2 linked regions of the Homo sapiens genome follow. Each later gene encodes a partner of the first gene's protein in a complex. Each region holds a gene or a part of one and is shown on either strand. Other genes may lie near its edges.

Region 1 (8,152 bases):
AGGAAATTTAATATCACTGCTCTAAATAAAGAGACACTAAATCACTCAATAAATATTTACAAAGTGCCTAATACATACTAGGCAGCGGGGATATAGCAGTGAAAAAGAGACTAAAAAATATCCCCACCCTCATGGAGCTAATGTTTTAGTAGGGGTGACAGACAATAAACAAGATAAAAGGACGGGCAAGGTGGCTCACACCTGTAATGCCAGCACTTTGGGAGGCCGAGGTGGGCAGATCACTTGAGGTCAGGAGTTCGAGACCAGCCTGGCCAACATGGTGAAACCCCGTCTCTACTAAAAATACAAGTTAGCGGGGCTTGGTGGCTGATGCCTGTAATCCCAGCTACTCGGGAAGCTGAGGCAGGAGAATCACTTGAACCCTGGAGGTGGAGGTTGCAGTGAGCAGAGATTGTGCCATTGCACTCCAGCCTGGGCAACAAGAGAGAAACTCCTTCTCAAAAGAAAAATAATAAAGTAAAATAAACAAGATAAGTAAAATATATAGTTAGAGACTGATCAGTACTGAAGGGAAAACGGGGTGTCTTAGTCCATTCTGTGCTGCTGTAACAGAATAGCTGAGACTGGGTAATTTCTAAAGAACAGAAATTTATTCTCTTATAATTCTGGAGGCTGGGAAGTCCAAGATCAAGGCACCAGCGTCTGATGAGGGCCTTCTTGCTGTCCTCACATGGTGGAAGTCAGAAGGGCCAATGGGACAAATTCTGTGTCCTCACATGGCATGTGTAGAGAGAGAACCCACTCCTCCAATCCCTTTCTATAATGGCATTAATCCATTCTTGAGGGTAGAGCCCTCATGATCTAAACACCTCCCATTAGGACTCACATCCCAACATTATTGTATTGGGGATTAAGTTTCCAATGCATGAATTTTGGGGGATACAGTCAAACCATAGCAGGGGATATCAAGTGTGTGAGTCATTAAAATTGTTGTTAAATAGTTAAAATTTTAGATAGGGCGGCCAGGGAAGACCTCATCGAGACAGTGACTTTTAAGTAAAGACCTGAAAGGGACAAGCCATGTGGAAATCCAAGAGAAACACAATTCAGGTAGTGGAACAAACAAGGCAAAGCACTGAGGACCGAGTGTGTCTGGGATGCTTAAGGAACAATAGGGAGGTCATGGGCAGAAGCAAGAAGACTAGAGAGCTAATGCAAAAATCCAAGCAAGAGATGATGGTGGCTTAAACCAGAATGATGAGAAATGGTCAGATTCTAGAAATATGAATGTTAAGTCAACATTTGCTGATGGGCCATTTAGCTGATGGGCCATTACAAAGTGTAAGGGTTAGGGGAGGAGATCAAGGAAAACCCCCAAATTTTGACCTGACCAAGCAACTGGAAGGATGGCGCCCAATACATTTCTTTTTTCTTTCTTTTTCTTTCAATGAACCATGTGTACAGTTTTTCATATTTCTTCTTTTTCTCCCCACCCCCAGATTTGCATTTCTGTCACTTGCACCACAACCTCCCCACTCAATGAAAGAAATTTAGAAAGCACTGGTATTCAAAAGAACAGACGTAAAACTGCTTGAGGTTTTGCTCATCTAAAGCCTGTGTGTTCTTTGGAGGCTATGACTTTTGAGGGCAAGTCATAAAAGCTAAAGAGGCCCCTGCCCTGTTCACCAAAACACTTGTTCTAAGTTCTAAAACACTGTAGTTCTATGATTCTGAAATCTTGAAAGGATTACAATGAAAAAAATACTCTGTTTTCAAGAATCCAGCAGACACTTTTCAGAATACTAAATTTTGTATATTGTAAATATACCAAATATACTGTGAATATTATCAGTATAATGCAATTCTGTTCAGCATAATACTGGTACATTGATTGGTTGGCTGGGTGCCAAGGAACACAGCTTTCTCAGGGAACAGAAATACTCCTGGTTCTTAGGATTTAAGCTATTAACACATATCTATGCTTGAAAACCACATGCCACTTTTGTTAAATGAATTGATGCAGTTCAGCATCATAAGCTCAAACATTCACTAATTTCACCTTTTTCTGATTTATTCACTTGTTTATTAGTTCAAGGAGAGGACAGTTTAAATAGAACAATATATACACAATGATAGTTTCATGATGAGCCAAGACATTAAGTAAGACAAACAAGGCAATCTGATTTTATGTTAAACATTGGCCTGTTACTGTATTATTAAAATAATAGTGGTATTTGAGTTTGGAGCCAGTATTGTGGTCTCTGTACAAAAATAATGCCTTTCTTTGGCATCAATAAATCAGTATGCATCTATCTTAATTATATCAGCATAAAAAATAGCTTACTCTCCTTGGCAGTAAATAACATTGCCTTCAATTAGCCAAATTATATTTCTGTCTCAAACTACATCCAGTACCATATATTCCATGTCATCAGAGAAATTCTAAATTATCACTGCAGATTGTGTTTATTTTTACATTGGACTGTATCACAAACTGAACATTTAAAATATGAAAAAGGAAAAAACCTTCATATAACTGCCTCTCAGTGTGCCTCCTCTCTAAAGCTTCTAGGCTGCTTTCTCCACTGGGCTGCAGACCTTCCTGTCTAGTAGCTCTTGGACACCATGTGTCCCAAACTGAACTCATCCCTTCCCTCCAGCTGCCCCTATTCCTGTGTTCTGTGTATCTATTCATGACATGTCCATCCACCTGGTCAGCCACGTTCAAAACTTGAATCTTTTGACTACTCACTATACTTCACTTCCTATATCCAATTGGTTGCCAAATACTGCCCACTGAACAGCTTCCAAGCATCTAATCTCTCTCTTCTTTATCTACTGCTGGAATTCTCTTCCTGAAGCCCAGATTTATGTTATTATTTGCCTTACATTTTCCTCCCATTTTCTATGGAATGGCCTAACTCCTTAGAATGGTACCAAGATTTTCCACAGTTTGGCCATTCCTTTCCACCCCACTGCACCTTGTTTTCATTGTCCTCAGAATTTCATTTATAAAGGTGACTGGGTGATGACAATCAATGAGTTAGTGGCCAATGCCTTTGAAAATTTTATTATAGTTCTCAAGAGAAGGGGCTGTGCCTACGGCCACACGAGAAAGTATTAGGGTCAATGAGGAGGTAGAGAGAGCGAGGAGAAAGCCCAGAGCCTTTATTGCCGTGGGAAGGAATGGGCGAAGCAGGGAAGGGAAGTCTGAACAAGCTTAGGATTGAATAATTTGAATAATGTTGGCAAGCTCTGGGATATAGAGGTGAATTTTAGTTGTCTGGTACTTGGCCATGGGGTGGTTTATTACAGTGACTTGGGGCAGGGAAAATATTGGTGTGTGAGATGGATAAAGATGGTGTGGGGATATAGGCTTGGGTTGGTTGGTTTGTAAATGAAAGGGGTGTTCACAAGCAAGTTGTTTGCTATCTCTAGGAATTAGCTAACTCTGAAAGGGGCAATTCCTCCCCAGGTCCCCAAGGCCCCAAGATGTCAAAGCATCATAAAATACAGAAAACAGAAACTAAAATCCATGGTTAATACACACCTCCCTTCACACACACCCTTTACTCCCGGCTCCAGTAGCCCCAGAAATGCTCTAGACGAAGTAAGTTCTGTAGTGCATCTCTCAACAATATGCCGCCACCCATAGCCCTGGCTGAGGAGAGCCACCAAACCTGGTACTATGCGACCATGGTCCTTCCCCTGGTCACTGGATAGTGATCGCACCCAACACAGGCACCCCCATCTACAGGGTGGCTGGAGATCTATGACCATTGTGGCGTACCTGGACCAATCAATAAACTGGACCAATTGGATTTCCATTTTTAGGGATTTAAATTCAGAGCCACAAAAGGAGATTGTCAGTTGATGATGAGCTAAGACACCCTGAAGTATACTCACAACCTTAGCAAGCCATGTGCAGTCTAGTGCTCCACCCCTCTACCCACCCCGTCCAACCCCCACCAAAATACTAACAAAATACAACACACTAGTTCATCATCTAGACCATAATAACTCGCTGGGGATAGTGCTGGAAGTTTTTGTTTGTTTAACATTTCTTTCAAATACTAAGATTAACGGAGTTGCATAGTGAAAAAAACTGTAGGAAAGGGTCGGACTTAGGCCTGGAGTGAAGGGCACAAGATGCTTTTATTTTAAACCCCTAAAAGTGTTGCAAAGTGTTTTTAATTTCATATAAATAGTTAAGGATCACATGAACACAATCCAGTACAAATGGGTCCAGGAGCTTCAACGAGCGTTCCAGCTTCTTCGTAACGTTCCCACACCGTGCAGCAAGCGGAGGGAAGAGAACTTCCGGCGCCCCCACCTACCGCTCCCCAGCCGTGTCCCGCTGCTCTAAATCTGCAGACTTGATCGATTGCTTCTGCCTGGGCGGTACCGCCCGAATTGACTGCTCCTGTCTGATGCGTCCCCGGGCGCGGGAAACGAGTTTCAATCCACTTTCCTGACCCCAACCATCCTGCCCAGTCTCCGCTTCCCCGTCTTGTACACCCCTAACTCCTGAGGCTCCTCCGAATCACGCGAGTGGAAGCGGAGAAGCTCAAGTGGCCGCCATGTCAGAGGCTTATTTCCGAGTGGAGTCGGGTGCGCTGGGGCCTGAGGAGAACTTTCTTTCTTTGGACGACATCCTGATGTCCCACGAGAAGCTGCCGGTGCGCACGGAGACCGCCATGCCTCGCCTTGGCGCTTTCTTCCTGGAGCGGAGCGCAGGCGCCGAGACTGACAACGCGGTCCCACAGGTGAGCCTTTGGGTGCGGGGTCCTGCCCGGAAAGACTGCAGCTCCCGGCGGGCCCCTCGGCCCTGGGACGCCGCATCGGGGCGCGCTGCCCTTTGGGATTTGTAGTTTTCGAGGAGCCAGGGCCGAAGGCGCTAACGACTTCTCGGAAACTCCGCGGGGGTCCCTTCGCGCTCGGGGTGGTCTCCAGACTTCTTGTTCGCCATCTGTGGTGAAACTACATTTATCCTAGGTCGCCAGGCAGCCTCCAACATTGATTTCTTTTTTGAAACTGTCCAAATTAGTGTCTTCCCCCTACCCCATGCAACGTGTGTTGAATGCTTAAAGATTGGCTCCAGCTGAATACTTAAGAATTAGAGTTCTGATCATGTTTGCCTTAAAACAGCTTTGGGTTCTGTAAGAGCATGTGATAAGTAGGAACCCCAAGTTGCTAAATTCATTCCTCCATAATGATGACAGGATCAGTAAGCCCTACTGAGGCTTACTTAGTGGCAGCATGGTTGGGTGTGGGGAGTAAGCTTTTCCCTTTAATCCTTCAGCAACCAGAAAGGCTGGGTCACTTGGCCAGGGCTTCAGTTAGTGGTGAGCTGGGATTCGGAACCCAAGGCCATATGGCTTCAAATATAAAATTGTCCCAGGAACATGGCTTGTAATGATTAATTTGGATATCCTGTTTCACCTAAGTTTTGTATAGAACGATGTTTATTGTTTGGTCTGTTTGTTTCAAGTTAATTTTTATCAAAGTAATACATAACCAACGTTTTAAAAGTCAAATAGGCCGGATGCGGTGGCTCACGCCTGTAATCCCAGCACTTTGGGAGGCTGAGGCGGGCGGATCACGAGGTCAAGAGATCCAGACCATCCTGGCCAACATGGTGAAACCCCATCTCTACTAGAAAGCTGGGTGTGGTGGCCGGCGCCTGTAATCTCAGCTACTCTGGAGGCTGAGGCAGGAGAATTTCTTGAACCCAGGAGGCAGAGGTTGCAGTGAGCCGAGACTGTGCCACTGCACTCCAGCCTGGCGACAGAGTGAGACTCCATCTCAAAAAAAAAAAAAAAAAAAGTCAAATAGTACCAAAAGATTTATAAGAAAAAAAATAGCAGGTCCTGCCTTCCTTTTCCCACTTCCCCCTCCAAGTCCACAGGGCTCATGTACCTTTTTTAGTGGTGTCTTCAAGATTCATCTTCATATTTCTAAATAATATTCTTAAACTTACCTTGTTGGGTTGTTTTTTTTAATGTAGACATTATCTGTTGACTTCATCCTAGCAGATGAGGATTTCGTTCCCATACACACTGGTAAACATGGCGCTATGCTGCCCATACTTAATTCATATTTCCTTAGTTTTTAGTTAATGCCCTTTTTCTATTCTAGGATTCCACCTAGGATACCACACTGCATTTAGTAGACATGTTTCCTTAGCCTTCTCTTGGTTGTGACAATTAATCAGACCTCCTTGTTCTAATGACCTCGACGGTTTTGTGGAGTGGTGGTCAGGTATTTTGTAAAATGTTCCTCAGTTGGAAATCTTTGGTTTGGGGGTAGTTTTGTTTTTGGTTTTGTTTTTTTGTTTGTTTTTTTGACACGGAGTTACCCTGTCATCTAGGCCAGAGTGCAGTGGCATAATCTCAGCTCACTGCAGCCTCCTCCACCTCCTGGGTTCAAGCAATTCTGCCTCAGCCTCCCAAGTAGCTGAGATTACAGGCGCCCACCACCACACCCAGCCAATTTTTGTATTTTTAGTAGAGATGAGGTTTCACCAGGTTGGCCAGGCTGGTCTGGAACTCCTGACTTCAAGTGATCCACCCAACTCAGCCTCCCAAAGTACTGGGATTACAGGCGTAAGCCACCTCGCCCAGCCTTCTTTGTTTTTGTTTTTTATTCTTTTTTTCTCAGCATTAGACTTGATTATCAGCTTTAGGGAGGAAGACCACAGAGGTAAAGTGCCATTTTCATCACATATTAAGGGTGCCTACTATCAACAGGACTTTGTACTGTTCATTTGAACCTTGGCAGAGGTAATGTTCATTAGGTTTCTCCACCTTTTCATACTGTACTCTTTGGATGGAAGTCATTATCACTGTCACACTGAAGGAGTAGGGAGTTATGTTCCACTTCTTTGAGTGCAGAGTGTCTACATTAAATCTTTAGAATCCTTCTGCATGGGAGATTTGTGTAGGAAGGTTTGTATGACATTTAATTTCATTTATAGGATTATTCAGACTTGATTTCTTCTTGTGTTAGTTTTGGTATATTTGGTTTTTAACTAAAACTTTGACCATTTTATCTAATTTTTTTTTTTTTTTTTTGAGACAGGGTTTTGCTCTGTTGCCCAGGCTGGAGTGCAGTGGTGTGATATGGCTCACTGCAGCCTTGACCTCCCAGGCTCCAGAGATCCTCCCACCTCAGCCACCTATGTGGCTGGTATTGCAGGTACATGCCACCATGTCCAGCTAATTTTTGTATTTTTTTTTTGTCTAAATTTTCTTTTTTTTTTTTTTCTATTTGTACATTTGAAATTCTTCTGTAATATTTGTATATATATATATATATTTTTTTTTTAATTGATCATTCTTGGGTGTTTCTCGCAAAGGGGGATTTGGCAGGGTCACAGGACAATAGTGGAGGGAAGGTCAAGCAGATAAACAAGTGAACAAAGGTCTCTGGTTTTCCTAGGCAGAGGACCCTGCGGCCTTCCGCAGTGTTTGTGTCCCTGGGTACTTGAGATTAGGGAGTGGTGATGACTCTTAACGAGCATGCTGCCTTCAAGCATCTGTTTAACAAAGCACATCTTGCACCACCCTTAATCCATTCAACCCCTGAGTGGACACAGCATATGTTTCAGAGAGCACAGGGTTGGGGGTAAGGTCACAGATCAACAGGATCCCAAGGCAGAAGAATTTTTCTTAGTACAGAACAAAATGAAAAGTCTCCCACGTCTACTTGTTTCTACACAGACACAGCAACCATCCGATTTCTCAATCTTTTCCCCACCTTTCCCCCCTTTCTATTCCACAAAGCCGCCATTGTCATCCTGGCCCGTTCTCAATGAGCTGTTGAGTACACCTCCCAGACGGGGTGGTGGCCGGGCAGAGGGGCTCCTCACTTCCCAGTAGGGGCGGCCGGGCAGAGGTGCCCCTCACCTCCCGGACGGGGCGGCTGGCTGGGCGGGGGGCTGGCCCCCCCACCTCCCTCCCGGACAGGGCGGCTGGCTGGGCAGAGGGGCTCCTCACTTTCCAGTAGGGGCGGCCGGGCAGAGGCGCCCCTCACCTCCCGGACGGGGCGGCTGGCCGGGCGGGGGGCTGACTCCCCCACCTCCCTCCCGGACGGGGCGGCTGGCTGGGTGGGGGGCTGACCCCCCCACCTCCCTCTTGGACGGGGCGGCTGGCCGGGCAGAGGGGCTCCTCACTTACCAGTAGGGGCGGCC
Region 2 (7,646 bases), on another chromosome or scaffold:
AATACAAAAATTAGCCAGACATGGTGGTGCATGCCTGTAGTCCCAGCTACTCGGGAGTCTGAAGCGATAGAATCACTTGAACCCCGGAGGCAGAGGTGCAGTGAGCCGAGATGGCACCACTGCTCTCCAGCCTGGGCAACAGTGAGATTCCATCTCAAACAAACAAAAAAAAACTATGTATCATCTCCTTTAAGATGAACATTTTTTTTTCACATTTTAATGTTCCTGAAAGTGGGACTTGTATTACTATCAATGACAGGTTATGGTTTACTTGGCAGTGTTTTTCATGTAGAAAAATGATGAATCTTAAAACTGATAGCTTCTTGGGTTTCATGAAGTAAGTTATCTTAAATGGAAATACTTTAAATGAATTACATACTTCCTGCTGCTTTGAAAGAATATATTGTACTGTAGACTTTTACTTCTAAGCCTCAGGTCAGTTTCTATTAATGAAGTATCAGCTCTGTTGACTCTGGGTGTAGTCTTTGGAGGCAAGCAGACTTGGTTTTTGAATCTTGGTTTTGCTGATTACTGGCTGCATAACCTTGGTCAAGTTCCTTAGCCAACCAAAAGCTGTTTCCTCATCTGTAAAATGGGAACCATATGTTAAGAAATTTGAATAAATATGATTTAACTTACTTTGGTATCGCCAGGCACGGTGGCTCATGCCTGTGATCCCAGCACTTTGGGAGGCCGAGGCAGGCAGATCACCTGAGGTTGGGAGTTCAAGACCAGCCTGACCAACGTGGAGAAACCCCGTCTCTATTAAAAATACAAAATTAGTCAGGCGTGGTGGCAAATGCCTGTAATCCCAGCTACTCGGGAGGCTGAGGCAGGAGAATTACTTGAATCCCAGAGGCAGAGGTTGCAGTGAGCCAAGATCATGCTGTTGCACTCCAGCCTGGGCAACAAGAGTGAAACTCTGCCTCAAAAATTAAAAATAAATAAATAAAAAACTTACTTTGGTATCACTTCATTATAGAAGGAAAATAAAGTGTGAGGTCAAAATCTTTTTCCCTTCTAATAGAAAGCAAAGAATATGCCAGTATACATCAAGAAGGCACTTTCGTATAAATTATGAAATTTAACCCAATTGAAAATATGCAGAAATAGATAGTTCAGCATACCTAAATTTGAAAACAGCACGTGCATGATTCTGTAGGGTAATACTTTGGGGACATGACATGTTGTCTTTTTATACTTTGCTAATCTGACATGCCTTTATTATATTTAACACTGAGATATGAATACAAATACATCTTCATATTTGTTTTTACAGGAAGTTATTCCAACTTTTGACATGGCTGTCAATGAAATCTTCTTTGACCGTTACCCTGACTCAATCTTAGAACATCAGATTCAAGTAAGACCATTCAACGCATTGAAGACTAAGAATATGAGAAACCTGAATCCAGAAGGTAATGTATTTTTCATAGGATTACTTTTGTTGAAGGAAAATGCCTTACATGAAAATAGCCTTGTTTTCATTGAGAAATTATGAAAGAAGTAATTGGCGGTGGTAGTCAAGGTGACGGATTATAAATTGACAATAATATAGATTCAGTTATCCTATATACTTATGAACCCCCTATACTTTTTAAATTTAATTGAAGTTTCTGATATAAGAGATGTGACTATTGGCCGGGCACAGTGGCTCACGCCTATAATCCCAGCACTTCAGGAGGCCGAGGCAGGCGGATCACCTGAGGTCAGGAGTTTGAGACCAGCCTGGCCAACATGGCAAAACTCCTTTACTAAAAATAGAAAAATTACCAGGGCATGGTGGCACACGCCTGTAGTCCCGGCTACTCTCGGGAGGCTGAGGCAGGAGAAACGCTTGAACCCGGGAGGCGGAGGTTGCACTGAGCAGAGGCTGTGCCATTGCACTCCAGCCTGGGTGACAGAATGAGACCCTGTCTCAAAAAAAAAAAAAAATTAGATTTTAAAGATTTGAGGATCACTTGAGGCCAGGAGTTTGAGACCAGCTTGAGTGACATAAGAGACTCCATCTCTTTTTAAGAAGAAATTAGCAAGGCACAGTGGCTCACACATGTAATCCTAGCACTCTGGGAGGCTGAGGTGACGGGCTTACTTGAGCCTGGCAGGTTGAGGCTTCAGTGAGCAGTGATTGCACCACTGTACTCCAGTCTGGGCAACAGGTTAAGACCCCATCTCAACAACAACAAAATTGTAGAGGTCTCATGAATCAGTGGCAGGATAGGGTGATCTTCACGGCTAGCAGTGGCTAAATACAGGCCAGAACAGGGTAGCTTGTCTGAAACCAGCAGGGGAAATTAGTTGCGGGCAGTGGGACCTTCAAAGGGAAAAAGTTGTCTGTCAGGAAAGGTTCAAATAATAGAGGAAACGAGCAAGAGTGAAAGATCAGAGCATCTAAGGGGTTCTCCTGTGTGGATAATAATGACTTTAAAGTATAGAGGACTTTTTCTCTACCAGGTGCTCTTACTAGGCTTGAAGTACATTGGCACGTTCAGTCCTTGGCTCTGGGATAGGTGCTGATACCACCCCATTCTATAGGGGACACAAAATGTACACAGAAAGGCTAGGGTCAGGACTCAGTCCAGGCTGTCTGGCTTTTTTCCTGACACAGCAGGGTGTCATACAGGAGGCCAGGTGAGTGAGGCAGGAGGCAGGGAGCAGGGTAGGCAGACAAGAAGGGAACGAGGGATGCCTGCTGGACAGGGGCCCTGAGGAAGAAGGGCCAGAGGTTCGCTGGGCTTGAGAGTCTCCTGAAGACATAGCCTGCAGATGACTGGACACAGAAAGGTCGCCCTAGGCAGAGTCTTGGGCACCTAGCTCCTGTCTGTGATCCCAGCTATTCCTGGACCTCCACACCTCAGGTCAGGTGTGCTGACCTCTCTTCTCCCCTCACAGACATTGACCAGCTCATCACCATCAGCGGCATGGTGATCAGGACATCCCAGCTGATTCCCGAGATGCAGGAGGCCTTCTTCCAGTGCCAAGTGTGTGCCCACACGACCCGGGTGGAGATGGACCGCGGCCGCATTGCAGAGCCCAGTGTGTGCGGGCGCTGCCACACCACCCACAGCATGGCACTCATCCACAACCGCTCCCTCTTCTCTGACAAGCAGATGGTGCGCAGCCACCCTGGCCCCCCAGGCTATGCTTTGCCTGTCTGTATCCTCAAAAGGCCAACTATAACTTGTCCCTCGGACCCTGAGCCTCACTTCCCGAATGGCATCCATCCCTCTCTGGTCTTGTGGGTTTCGTTAGTGGCCTATGGGCTAAATATGCAGAGCACGCAAAGCCCCTGCTTCAGGGCACTGTCCCTGTGCTGTTGCCAGTGGCACTGTCTGTTGTTAGAGACACTGTATTTTCATGGCCTAAAATGCTTCAAACGTTTGAGATGAGAATACTTGGTTAAATGTCATTCTGCTTTTTCCATTGGTAAAGGATTGAGGAATTTTTCTGAAATTTTTTCACAAATTTTACTGTCTAAGAAGTTTGGTCTTTTTTCTCTATATTCATGAAATTTTAAGATGAAGTTATTAAAATGACAGAAAAAAGTGAGGGGAAGGTAGAAAATTGCTTATTTACCGTGATTGTGACTGTAAAGATGTGGGAGGACAGGATTTGAGTTTTTCTGTGACTGCGTGTGCATGGTTTCTTTAATGTTGCATGGGATGGAGAGCTGGAGACAGAAAGGCAGGCACCCTGCTCCGCAGGAGCACATGGCCTCCTATTCTCAGAATCATGCAGGCCCCCAAAGTGGCTTAGAGAAAAGCCCAGCATCCTTAGGCCTCTCAGAGGGTACCTGGTTTGGAAAGGCCTTCCTCGACCCTGCTTTATGAAAAGCATCTCAGCTTCCCCCACCGCAGCTCCCTACATTCCTTCCCCTGTTTTGTTGCTGTCTGTTGCAGCAACTTCTTTAGAAGAAGTAATTTCTAAGGAAATAATGAGAAACATGGACAATCATTTATGTGGGGATATGCACTGCAGCCTTATATGGCAAAAGCAGTACAAAGACATGCAGATTTTGTCCCCCTGCCCTCTCTTTGTGGCCCACATGTTCTCTGTTTGCTGACCTTCAGATCAAGCTTCAGGAGTCTCCGGAAGACATGCCTGCAGGGCAGACACCACACACAGTTATCCTGTTTGCTCACAATGATCTCGTTGACAAGGTCCAGCCTGGGGACAGAGTGAATGTTACAGGTAAGAGTGTAGGTTTGCACCAGCACTTGAGCATGTCTGGCTTGCTTTCAATGCTGTGCTTTAGTGAGTCATTGGACTTGGTCACAGGTCCAGTTCTACCTCCAGTTGTCACTGCTTGTCTTTGAGACTGTGGGGTATATCCCTGCTTTATCTGCCACCTTTTTAACTGAGTACCATGGCCCAGCAGTATGAAATTGTTCAGTTCTTCCCAAACTTGAATGTTGGAGCTCATGGTTCGTGTGGTCACTCGCCTCTTGATACCTCAGTATCCTGGAGCTGTGTGTGTCTCAAGTCAGTACTGTTGGCATCATGAGAGAGCAGCCTCAGACAGGCTTGTATGGGTAAAGTTTTGAGTTATGCCATCAGCTCAGAGAAGTATTACTCACCAATGCTGGAGTTTTAAGTAATTTTTACTTAATTTCCCAAATGTATAGCCAAGGGTTAACATTTGTTTGTTACAGAGAAAAATGAGTCAGTGACTTGTTTCCATGTGTAGAAGCTGAGGTTCAGGGATGCATAGACAGCAGTAGCTCAGATGCCACGGTAAATCAGAACCCAGGACCCAGGTCTCCTTCTCTTGCTGCCACAAGAGTGCTCTTTGCACAGCACCATATGAGTGTGGCAGTCCTCCTTTTGATGCTGTAGAGTCACAATGGATTTTGGTTGGGGGCAAGGGAGTGTTGATGGCAGCACGGTTCTTCATTGATGGGCAAGGTGGCGACGGTCGCGGAGTGCCTGAATCTGCTCCTGAGCGGAGGGCCTGGGGCACACCACGCATCGGCTCTTGTCTTCAGTGAGGCAGTGCTCACCCTGTTTCTTCCCCAGTGTGAAGTCCCGCAGTTATCACTGGCAATCTTCCGTCGTAAAAGTACTTGAAGTCATGGAGAATTTGAAAGAATGCGTAGTTTTTAGTGAGTGACGTGCGCATTTCCAGTCCTGCTACCCTGAAACCTTTGATAAAGTATTTAGTCCAATATTTTTGTTTCCTCACCTACAAAGTGGAGTTAATGTGATGATACATGTGTGAGAGTGTTTGGGGCCAAGGGGCTGTGGAAAGTGCTGTGTAGATGTGAAATAAGTATCAATGCTGCTCTGTGAGATAAATCATTCCGGGCCACTTTAAACATAATCTTCCATCCCTAGCCTATATTGGAGTGAAGAATAGTGTGTATTCTAAGAATGTGTGTAAACTGGTTTGTTGTGTTAAACAAGAATTACACTGACCCACTGAATAAACAAGGACAGTGCTCTGTGCCATTGCGTTGAGATAGCTGTAACGGGGAAAGGCCAGGCTTTCTCCAAAAGCTGCAGGAATCAGCCTGGAGTTAAAGCCTTCTGGTTTGAAATCCAGAAAAGACGAACATCAGATCAGACCTCTGTATGTGAGGAGCCTGGCTTCCAGAAGAATGCATGATTTGCATGCTTTTGTCGGGGGTGGTGGGTAGGTTGGGGGGACCTAGTCTAGTTTTAATGACTGGAGGATTTTAGCATTTTGTTGCAGTCAAGTAAGTGCTAGGCAGATTCTGTACACTCAACTTAGGGAAGTAAAAATACTGCTTATTAAAAACAACCACGAACCCAGCATTGAGCTAGAAGCACAGCAGCTCCATTTCACCCTCAGGGTGACTGTGCCCGTGGGCATGCTCACGTAGCTACAGTTGCCCTGGAGCACTGCTGACTAGTGGGCCCAGGTGAACACGTCCTCGGGTCTATCATTTGCAGAAACCTGGGTTCTTTCTCTTTTGTTTTGTTTTGTTTTGTTTTGTTTCATTTTGTTTTGTTTTGTTTTTGAGACGGAGTTTTGCTCTCGTCACCCAGGCTGGAGTCCAATGGCACCATCTTGGCTCACCGCAACCTCCGCCTCCCAGGTTCAAGCCATTCTCCTGCCTCAGCCTCCCGAGTAGCTGGGATTACAGGCATGTGCCACCACGCCCGGCTAATTTTTGTATTTTTAGTAGAGACAGGGTTCTCCTTGTTGATTAGGGTGGTCTCGAACTCCCAACCTCAGGTGATCCGCCTGCCTCAGCCTCCCAAAGTGCTAGGATTACAGACATGAGCCACCTTGGTTCTTTCGAGCTTGTCCGTTTCCTGCTGCTATTTCCCTGCTTGCTCATAGCAAGCGGGAGCTTTGCAATGTGGGCCTGAGTCCTGGGCTTGGGAGGGTCATTTAAGAGACGGTGGAGCTCACCCTTTCCAGGGCCAGCCCGACGTGGTGCCTCGCTCTGAAGTGCACCTGTTGCCTACGCTGGTTGCTGAGCCACTCGGAGGAAGATATGGGAAGGTAAAAGTGCATCTCCTGGTTGTGCCCTCAGGCATCTATCGAGCTGTGCCTATTCGAGTCAATCCAAGAGTGAGTAATGTGAAGTCTGTCTACAAAACCCACATTGATGTCATTCATTATCGGAAAACGGATGCAAAACGTCTGCATGGCCTTGATGAAGAAGCAGAACAGAAACTTTTTTCAGAGAAACGTGTGGAATTGCTTAAGGAACTTTCCAGGAAACCAGACATTTATGAGAGGCTTGCTTCAGCCTTGGCTCCAAGCATTTATGAACATGAAGATATAAAGAAGGTAACAGTGGATTTTAAACTAGGGGTTGGGATTTACAATTCTTTGGGATCAAATAGTATAAACATCCACTCCGCCACTCGAGCCATCCGCCATAAAGGACAGAGTTGTGGCCTGTTAGAGCAAGTGCTGGCAACCTGACTTGCCATTGGTTGAGAAGAATCATAGCATTGTCTATCCTCATCTCTGGTCTAAACTTAGGTTTCTAAACAGAAGAGGCCACACAGTGTCAGAATAGGGACTTGCATGGCCACCATTCTGGTGTAATGATAGGTGCTGATGAACTGGTCAGTGATAACTTAAAGCATATCAAGCACTTTCACGAGCCTTTTTATACCTTCCTGTGATTTCTTAATTGTAGTTCTTTATAAGAGAGAAAAGTACCTCTAAAGTTTAAACTACATCTCAGTTAACTGTGCAGAAAATGAATGTTTAGACATGTCTCTGATTATTTAGGGAATTTTGCTTCAGCTCTTTGGCGGGACAAGGAAGGATTTTAGTCACACTGGAAGGGGCAAATTTCGGGCTGAGATCAACATCTTGCTGTGTGGCGACCCTGGTACCAGCAAGTCCCAGCTGCTGCAGTACGTGTACAACCTCGTCCCCAGGGGCCAGTACACGTCTGGGAAGGGCTCCAGTGCAGTTGGCCTCACTGCGTACGTAATGAAAGACCCTGAGACAAGGCAGCTGGTCCTGCAGACAGGTGCTCTTGTCCTGAGTGACAACGGCATCTGCTGTATCGATGAGTTCGACAAGATGAATGAAAGTACAAGATCGGTATTGCATGAAGTCATGGAACAGCAGACTCTGTCCATTGCAAAGGTGAGTCGCCTTCTCCACCGTGAACATGGACGTGTTTAAAATATGTGGACCCTTGAAAGACAGG

Evidence for each region. The genes of interacting proteins can lie anywhere in the genome.
Region 2: GINS3 (region 1) and MCM4 share a complex: the UniProt entries of both Homo sapiens proteins name them as parts of the CMG helicase complex.

The regions. Positions count from the first base shown.
Region 1 is NC_000016.10:58,388,061-58,396,212, forward strand, and holds the start of GINS3 (DNA replication complex GINS protein PSF3), read left to right. Parts: upstream 1-4,410; 5' UTR 4,411-4,541; coding exon 4,542-4,727; intron 4,728-7,041; coding exon of another isoform or gene 7,042-7,158; intron 7,159-8,152. UniProt on the Homo sapiens protein: Required for correct functioning of the GINS complex, a complex that plays an essential role in the initiation of DNA replication, and progression of DNA replication forks.
Region 2 is NC_000008.11:47,963,295-47,970,940, forward strand, and holds part of MCM4 (DNA replication licensing factor MCM4), read left to right. Parts: intron 1-1,279; coding exon 1,280-1,418; intron 1,419-2,892; coding exon 2,893-3,113; intron 3,114-4,070; coding exon 4,071-4,191; intron 4,192-6,503; coding exon 6,504-6,763; intron 6,764-7,216; coding exon 7,217-7,582; intron 7,583-7,646. UniProt on the Homo sapiens protein: Acts as a component of the MCM2-7 complex (MCM complex) which is the replicative helicase essential for 'once per cell cycle' DNA replication initiation and elongation in eukaryotic cells.